2 separate regions of the Homo sapiens genome follow, and region 1 is reported to be linked to region 2. The links are microRNA targets in miRTarBase. Many come from high-throughput screens and were not tested one by one. Region 2 holds a microRNA gene; the other region holds the end of a gene's coding sequence.
The links. Region 2 holds the annotated microRNA hsa-miR-4720-3p (UGCUUAAGUUGUACCAAGUAU, at 2,645-2,665, shown strand). A microRNA usually pairs through its seed, bases 2 to 8, with sites in the 3' UTR of a target mRNA and lowers its output. Matches are read on the target gene's strand: a 7mer-m8 pairs with bases 2 to 8, a 7mer-A1 pairs with bases 2 to 7 and ends in A, and an 8mer does both.

Region 1: the mRNA of ORMDL1 is a reported target of hsa-miR-4720-3p. The part of its 3' UTR that is shown has no 7-base or 8-base seed match.

The regions. Positions count from the first base shown.
Region 1 is chr2:189,767,869-189,771,986 of GRCh38, reverse strand. ORMDL1 (ORMDL sphingolipid biosynthesis regulator 1) reads left to right here. Exons shown (of 5, transcript NM_016467.5): 5 at 85-1,720. The coding sequence ends at 220. Among named protein-coding and RNA genes, the nearest start is that of OSGEPL1, 7.1 kb to the right of the region's middle.
Region 2 is chr16:81,382,419-81,386,663 of GRCh38, forward strand. It overlaps MIR4720 (microRNA 4720), which reads left to right and starts at 2,600; the gene lies at 2,600-2,675. GAN (gigaxonin) reads left to right here. Exons shown (of 11, transcript NM_022041.4): 11 at 1-4,245.

The DNA.
Region 1 (4,118 bases), not on the chromosome of region 2:
TTTTTTTCTACCTTTAAAATTGTTTAAGTTCCAAGTAATTTTATTTTTGGATGTTATATATATTCTTAACTTTTATCTCTACAGATATTTTCTGGCAAGTTTCTATACGAAGTATGATCCAACTCACTTCATCCTAAACACAGCTTCTCTCCTGAGTGTACTAATTCCCAAAATGCCACAACTACATGGTGTTCGGATCTTTGGAATTAATAAGTATTGAAATGTTTTGAAACTGAAAAAAAATTTTACAGCTACTGAATTTCTTATAAGGAAGGAGTGGTTAGTAAACTGCACTGTTTCTGTGATAATGTGAAATGAGAAGTATTTACATTGGAGGGCCAATGGCTGGTCCTTCAAGTGCTGTTTTGAAGTGCAGATTTCCATTAAATGATGCCTCTGTTTAATACACCTGGTACATTTCTGAAGAGGGGCTTTATAAGCAGGCTGGGCAGGCCCAGCTTATAAGTTAAAGGGCATCACAGTGAGGGTGTAGTAGATAAATTCAAGGAAATAAGAGATTTGTAAGAAACTAGGACCAGCTTAACTTATAATGAATGGGCATTGTGTTAAGAAAAGAACATTTCCAGTCATTCAGCTGTGGTTATTTAAAGCAGACTTACATGTAAACCGGAATCCTCTCTATACAAGTTTATTAAAGATTATTTTTATTACCGTACATATTTCTCGTTTTATGTAAGCGGATGTATATCCTCTTGTTTTATACAAGCCAGTTCCCACTTATGAGGGTACTTTTTTGGTTTTGCTGGCTTAATATTGTGTATTGGTCAATGAGGCCATTTTTACATTTATTACGTTACAGAGTTCATGGAGGTTCACCTTTGTGACTGATTGGTGATAAAAGATAGCCAAGTGTCTTACAAGCAGCTTCTGAGTCAAGTGTTCTAATTTTGGAACAAAGCAGGTTTTACTGCTTTTCCAGACACAAGGCTGCTAAACCAATTAAGAAAATAATTAATTTCTTTCAAGCAACTAAAAAATATATGGTAATTTAAAGGTGTCTGCTTATTTGGTTGAACAATTTAATTGGGAAAGTTTGTCATCATTTGAAAAAGGAAATATAAAAGGAACAACCATATAGCCAACCTGTGGTCTGGCAGAAACAACGTCTCTAGCAATAGTACCAAAGTAAGTAATGGAGTCTTTTTTTTGGCAGGTCTGCAGTAAAAGATAACATTTTCTTTTCTTAGTCCTCCTGCTCTCAACCCCCATATTTTGCCTTTGAATACGTGGGTTTTAGTATATATAGCCCAAAATGGTAACTGTCTCCAGAACAGCAACCACATTGAATTCTTGTGACTTAGGAAAGCTTCTTATAGTTGCTGACATTAATTGCAAGAAATAACTATATACTACTTTGAGAAGTAAACATGTCAAAAAAAACAAAGTTCAGATATGGGACAAAATTTAAAAATTCAGTAACATTTATAAACAGAATTGAATGAAAAGAGTTACAGACCAACTTAAACATCAATTCGTGTCAGTAAACTGACTTTTGGGGGTAATGATCATTGTTTTGTATCTCAAAAGTATTGAGTTTAGAAATCAGTTGTATGATACTACCTTTGTATGTCTGTCTTTTCCCGTGTATTTTTAAATAACTGGTGATCTATAATTTAATAAAATTTTTCGTTGGTGTAATATTATTTCAAAAGCCCTCCAAATTTAGTCATCAAAATTAAAATGACATTTTTCAAGTTTATTTTTAAGCAACTGAATTCGTAAAATTAAAGTAACAAAAAGCATTCATTTTTCTTTATTTTAAAGTTCCTCTCAAAAGGCTTACATTTTTTTAACATACTTCAGAGATAGAAGTCTCCCTCTTAGACATGCTTTCTTCACTGCTTTCTCCCGTCAATGTTTTAAAAATATTTACTCAGTAGATATTTGAAGGGCCCACTCTGTAACAGGAATTATGTTAGGTATTGAGGATAGTTTGTAGACAAGAAAAACCAACTCCCTTCCCTTTGGTGCCTACATTCCAGTTTAAAACAAAATCTAAAAATGACTATTACTTGGAACAAAATAAATTGCCATGCCATAAATGCTCCTGACTTCAAGTCAGGAGACATAATGGCAATTTCTAAGGAGTCATGAGCTTAGAAATGCCACAAATTTTAGCATTCATTGGTGGATCTTTCTTGCAGCAATTACTATTGTGGAGTTCTAGTGATGATTTTCTGTTTCCCTTATTCTATAATTATTTATTAGAATCTTTTTATAAGGAAGATTTGTCCCTTCTTTATTTACTTATTAAATCACTTATACTCTGGGCTTATGGATATTTCATTCTTTGGGTTATAATCCATTATTATGATTTGTTGCTCAAATTGTCCTCCAGCTTTGACCATTAGGAGCTCTTACAAGCTGACTGCTGTGTCCCTTTGACCTGCCCCCATCCTTTTTCTAGGTTTATGGTGTTATTGTCTATTGAATTATAAAGATCCTAAGAGGCATAATAATATCTCCTTCACTAATACCTATATGAATTAGCTTATAGAGCTATATGAGGCTAAGTTAGAGAAGCCCTTAGACACCATGTAATTCAACCCCCTGCCTTAACTTTTTTTTTTTGAGATGGCTGGAGCCGGGTTTTTTTTGTCGCCCAGGCTGGAGTGCAGTGGCGTGATCCCGGCTCACTGCAACTTCTGCCTCCTGTGTTCAAGCAATTCTCCTGCCTCAGCCTCCTGAGTAGCTGGGATTATGGGCGTGCACCACCATGCCCAGCTAATTTTGTATTTTTAGTAGAGATGGGATTTCACCATGTTGGTCAGGCTGGTCTCAAACTCCTGACCTCAAGTGATCTGCCCGCTTCAACCTCATGTTGGTCAGGCTGGGATTACAGGCATGAGCCAACATGCCGGGCCCCCTACCTTAGCTTGAATCTTTATTAATTACCACCCTTCCATTTAGTTCTGTTTTAATAATAATATTAATAGAAGAGGACTTATAAGACAGTATATTCTATTTTTGTAATAGAATTTACAATTTGTTGTATATCGAGTCAAAAATCTAATCTTTACATAACTCTTCAAGTATTTAAAGATAACTTTTAAATTGGTGTCAACAGCATGGAATAAATATTACTAGAGCCTTCACCATTTTCCATATGATATGGTTTCAGATTTCTCCCACTATCCTGGTAATTCTGCTCTAAGTTCCAGTTTATTACTTATTATATAGCACAAGAGTTAAATACAAGAGGTGATCAGATATGCTGTGAAAGAGTACCACTTCCCCTGTTCTGGATGCTTTTTTTTAATGCTGCCTAATACCACTTTAGTTTTTTATTTTGACAACCACATATCACTGATTCACTTTATGTCACTAAAACCTTAAATCTTCAATATGTAGTGCTGTTAAATTATGGCTTACCCTTCACATATGAAATTGATTTATTAAACCAAACTCTTAAGACATTTTTCCTATAGAACTCCATCTTGTTAGATTTTAGTTTATTGATTCATCTTGTCTAGCTAAAGCTGAATCTTGATTTTCATGCAGTATATTTCTCCTGTGTCTTCTATATCATATATGTCATCAGTAAGTATCACCCAAAAATAGCCTCATGCTAGTCATGAAGAACACAAATGGAGTAACCCAGTGTCAACCAGTGCAATTTAATAGTCTTTCTAACAGGATAGACAGAAAAGAGTAATTCCTAAAACAATAACATGGATAGTACATGTCGATGTGAGCAATGTGAACAAGTTCAGTACTGAAAAGACCTATCTAGGTAAAATACCCTAAAAGGAGGTTTGGAGTAGTGCAGCGCAGGGAAGGGGAAGGTAAGTAGAATAGCAGAGATAAACTCTCCTTTGTTGTGTCAAAAAGAAAAGAATGAGATGTATCACATTTTTATTTTACTGCCTAATTTCAGTTCCAGGTAAAAAAGATCCAGTGATGTAGCAAGTAGTTTGTTATGTTGGGTTTAAAAATTTTCATATAGCTACAAATGAATGCATGAGAATTATAAGCATCAAAGTCAGAATCCTGAATGTATCAAGTATATAGGACACAGGGCTTCAACTGTATTGGATGATTTTATCTCAAGTTGAATGTTGGCCTCACAGAAGTTGTTTATAGTATTTAATTTTTTC
Region 2 (4,245 bases):
AGGTTAAGAATTTATTTACTAAGGTCGTAAGAACAGAAGAAAGTTTCTTTGAAAGAGAAACTGTTTTTTTATTTCAAAGAGCTTCATGTATACTTCCCTCTCTTATTCCATGTAATTAGTAAGGGAAAATAAACTATGTCTTAGAATGTTGAGGAAAGTATTTTGATAGCTTTTAATAATTCTTGAAATACTCTTTACTCTGTCTGTAGTTTTGAGAAATTACAGAAATTCATAGTATAAGGATGAGAAGGGGCCCATTTGCCCATATTTGATAACACAGACTTGGATTGAGTGTCTGTCATGCCTGCTGGCAGTTAAGTCTCAGTGGTATTGACTGCTAGGCATTTTCTATATTTTTTGCAAGTTAGCTGGTAAAACTTGGTAAAGTTTTGTGTTTTTCAGAAGGAACCCTATTATTATTTCCATTTTAAACATATTTCAATATTGTCTCATTGTAATAGTTCCATTTATGTGACATCTGAGGAATTAAATCATACTTCCAGATGGTTTGGTCTAATGTATACAGTTTAGGAAAGTTTATTCTTTTTTATTTTATTTTATTTTTTTAAATTTCTTTTAGAAACTGGGTTTTGCTCTGTTGCCCAGGCTGATCTTAAACTCCTGGCCTCAGATGTGGAGACCCAGCTGGGACTACAGGCATGAGCCACCACGCTCCGTAGAAAGTTTGTTCTTTTTCAGTTCTGTCATTGAAATTCTCTAAGTGATTGGATTTTTAAACCCCTTCCCCTTTTCATGAAATTAAACATCAAATAAATAAAACTACATTATATAATTATTTAGTCAGAAATGACTGTTGCCCTCTCTTTTTTTTTTTTTTTTTTTTTTTTTTTTGAGACGGAGTCTCGCTCTGTCGCCTAGGCTGGAGTGCAGTGGTGCGATCTCGGCTCACTGCAATCTCCGCCTCCTGGGTTCAAGCAATCATCCTGCCTCAGCCTCCCCAGTACCTGGGATTACAGGTGCTTATTACCACACTCGGCGAATTTTTTGTGTTTTTAGTAGAGACGGGGTTTCACCATGTTAGCCAGCATGGTCTCGATCTCCTAAACTTCGTGATCCGCCCGCCTCAGCCTCCCAAAGTGCTGGATTACAGGTGTGAGCCACCTCGCCTGCCCTCTTTTTTTTTTTTTATTTTGAGATTAAAACTAATTCTTTTAAAGTCACTACTCAGCTGAAATTTGGCCTGATTATAAATGTTGATAATAATTTCTTCCTGGCTCAACAAAGTTGTTGAGCTTCCTTCTGTGCACACATTGAAAGAAAACCAGAAATTGTACAGTCGTGATATGAATTAGAGAAGGAACAGGTGGAAAAGGATGGCAACACACAGAGTCCGGGGGACACACGGCCTTAAGATGAAGTGAACGAGTAGACACTGAATAGGATCCACGTAAATGAACGGCCATTTCAAATCATTCACATCCCAAACGGAGGTTCATCTGTCTTCTGGTTGGTGAATTATATTTATTAGGATCTTATTTTTAGCATTTCATTACAAGTAATAGGTTTGGGTACCTTATTTTTATTGTTTTTACTCATCAGTTATGAATAAGGCATACCTTAGAAACTTGGGTTAAATTTTTTCAAGTTATACCAGTCAACTTGGTTTAAATACAACTGTACTAACTTGCTTTATCATGTTTCCTGTTTAATTGGATGAGAATTACATGCACTTATTCAGTTGTTCTTTGTGTTTATAGGAAAAACTCTGTTCTCAGCTACCTCATTATGTAGTATTGTGCTTGATCCCCTGCCAATTGAGAAGAATTCAACACATTCTGTTCTTTAACAAAAGCTTGGAAGCAGGCAGTCAGAGGCCTTGAGGAATACAATTCTCTAAGGCCTGTTTTCCATTTTACTACTTAAAAAAAAAAAAAAAAGAAAAGAAAAAAAAGCACTTACAACCAGGAGGAATAATAATTCTCCTAGAGTTGCTGCAAACTGATTACTTGAAACTCAACTTGAACTTTAAAGAGTCTTTAAAAGGCTGTTTTCATAATGCAGAAAAGTAGTCTATTTAAACGCCACTGCTGTGTAAAACAGGGGGCTCGATTTCCATTCTTGTTAGCATCAGACAAGAAAATGTGTCTATCTGTCATCTGACCCAGTATTTGGGATTTGGGTGCTTGAGGATACTATTTTTTTCATTTCTTATAAGGTGCTATTGTTTCCCAGAAATCTTTAATTTTGATGAAAATCTACTCATTGCTAAGATCCTCCTCACTTAAAGTGTTTCCTCAGTGCAGAGTTGAGGTTGGCAGAACTATATAGAGTTGGATGATACTGAAAATCATGAATGATGTGATTTGTTCCATGTATCTGTGGAACATCCCTCACCTTCCTCCGGTATGCGCCTTCTGCACTCCACACGTGGTCGCCTCCATCCTCCCTAGTGTCTGTCAGCTTGCCTGGTCACCAAGTCAGGAGGAAGAAGATGAGGAGGCTCACCAGTTGTAGGCAAGACTCTTCCTCTCGGGAGATCTTGTAATAATGGCCCAGTTTCAGGGCACAGTTGTACACATTCTACTTAAATGGAGGAGTTCAGTGATGCCGTGGCCAAAAGAGTTATGCCCATTTCTAAAAGCCTGGCATATTTGGTATAACTTAAGCACCAGGTAAAATCTGGTGCTTAAGTTGTACCAAGTATAGCCAAGTTTAACTGTCGTTGTGTATTAATAAGATTTAATTTTTATGCTTGTGCTTTTCAGAGTAAAGGGCTTGCTTTCAATAGTAGAATGACAAAGCTTCTCCTCCAATGACAATCTGTTAGCACCCTGTTGACTTAGCTCAGGACATGAGACTGACTTAGCTCAGGACATGAGACATTTCCTGGAAGTGATTTCCATGAGAACAAAGGCTTATTCCTTTAACTTAAACCCCAAACTTTGTTATTTTAATTATTTTCAGGCAATCATCTTTATATACTTTCCTTACAAACCCAGTGGTTGAGAGCATAGGCCTTGGTGGCAGGTGCATCTGGGCTTGGGGGCTTCTGCCACACTTACTACTCTGTGACTTGGGAAGCTCTTAAGGCTCCCAAGGCTCCGTTTCTTATGTGGAAGAAGAATAGCAGGAGGACTCACCTCTGCGGGTTGTTGTGAGGATTAACTGGGTGATGACTGTAAGCAGCTGGGAGAGTGCCTTGTGTGCAGTGACCACTGTTGCTGCCACCATGATTATGTCACCTCTCAACATGGGGTGGTGGGAGGCCCTGTGGATGAGGCCAAGGCTGCCTGCACTGAGTGTCCCAGGCCTTATAGCTTTCCACATTCTCACGTCTGCTGCCACATGATATACAAGTAAATGTATTAGAAGTTGGTGTTCATAAAATACTTTTTTTTTTTTTTTTTTTTGAGATGGAGTCTCGCTCCGTCACCCAGGCTGGAGTGCAGTGGCGCCATCTCCCAGGCTCAAGGGATCCTCCTGCCTCGGCCTGCCAAGTAGCTGGGACTACAAGTGCACACCAGTATGCCCAGCTAATTTTTTGTATTTTTAGAACAGGTGTGGTTTCACCATATTGCCCAGGCTGGTCTCGAGCTCCTGAGCTCAGGCAATCCGCCTGCCTCAACCTCCCAAAGTGCTGGGATTACAGGTGTGAGCATCCAGCCAGAAAATGATTTGCTTTCTAGACCCATATCACCTCTCTCCATCTACATCTCTAGTATTTAAATTCAACACAATTCTAGATAGCTGAAACAGCCCAAAATATGTGTTTAGAATACTTAGAGTTTGTTATAAATAACCCTCTGTTTAGAATTTGCCCAGTGAAATTCTCTAATAATACTTAAAACTCTTTACTAAAGTTGAATTTTCCTTTTTTTTCATTGAAATAGCAAAGGTAGTAATCTGTATTGGTCAAAGAAACGAGATAATTCCTAGATCTCTGTTTTAGACCAGTAGACCTAACTGTGCTTTCTTAACTTGGATGTTACATGAAACTTAAAAACAAACAAATATGTGTTACAAGTACTTGTGTGTACGTGCATGTGTGTTTGTGCATGTGTCTGTGTGTGTGGAACTTTTGTACCTTTGCATAAAGAAGGTTATTTAACAAAGTGGTACAAACAGTGAACTACTTAATCCTTCTATGGTATCATACACTTCTTTTCCTGGTTAGGTTATGAGACTGGCAGAGGTAGGAGTATATAATGTGCTCAGCTTGTCTTGATTTCAATAAGACATTTGATAAAGTCATTCTTGATCTCTGAATGTGAAAAGGAAGTAGAA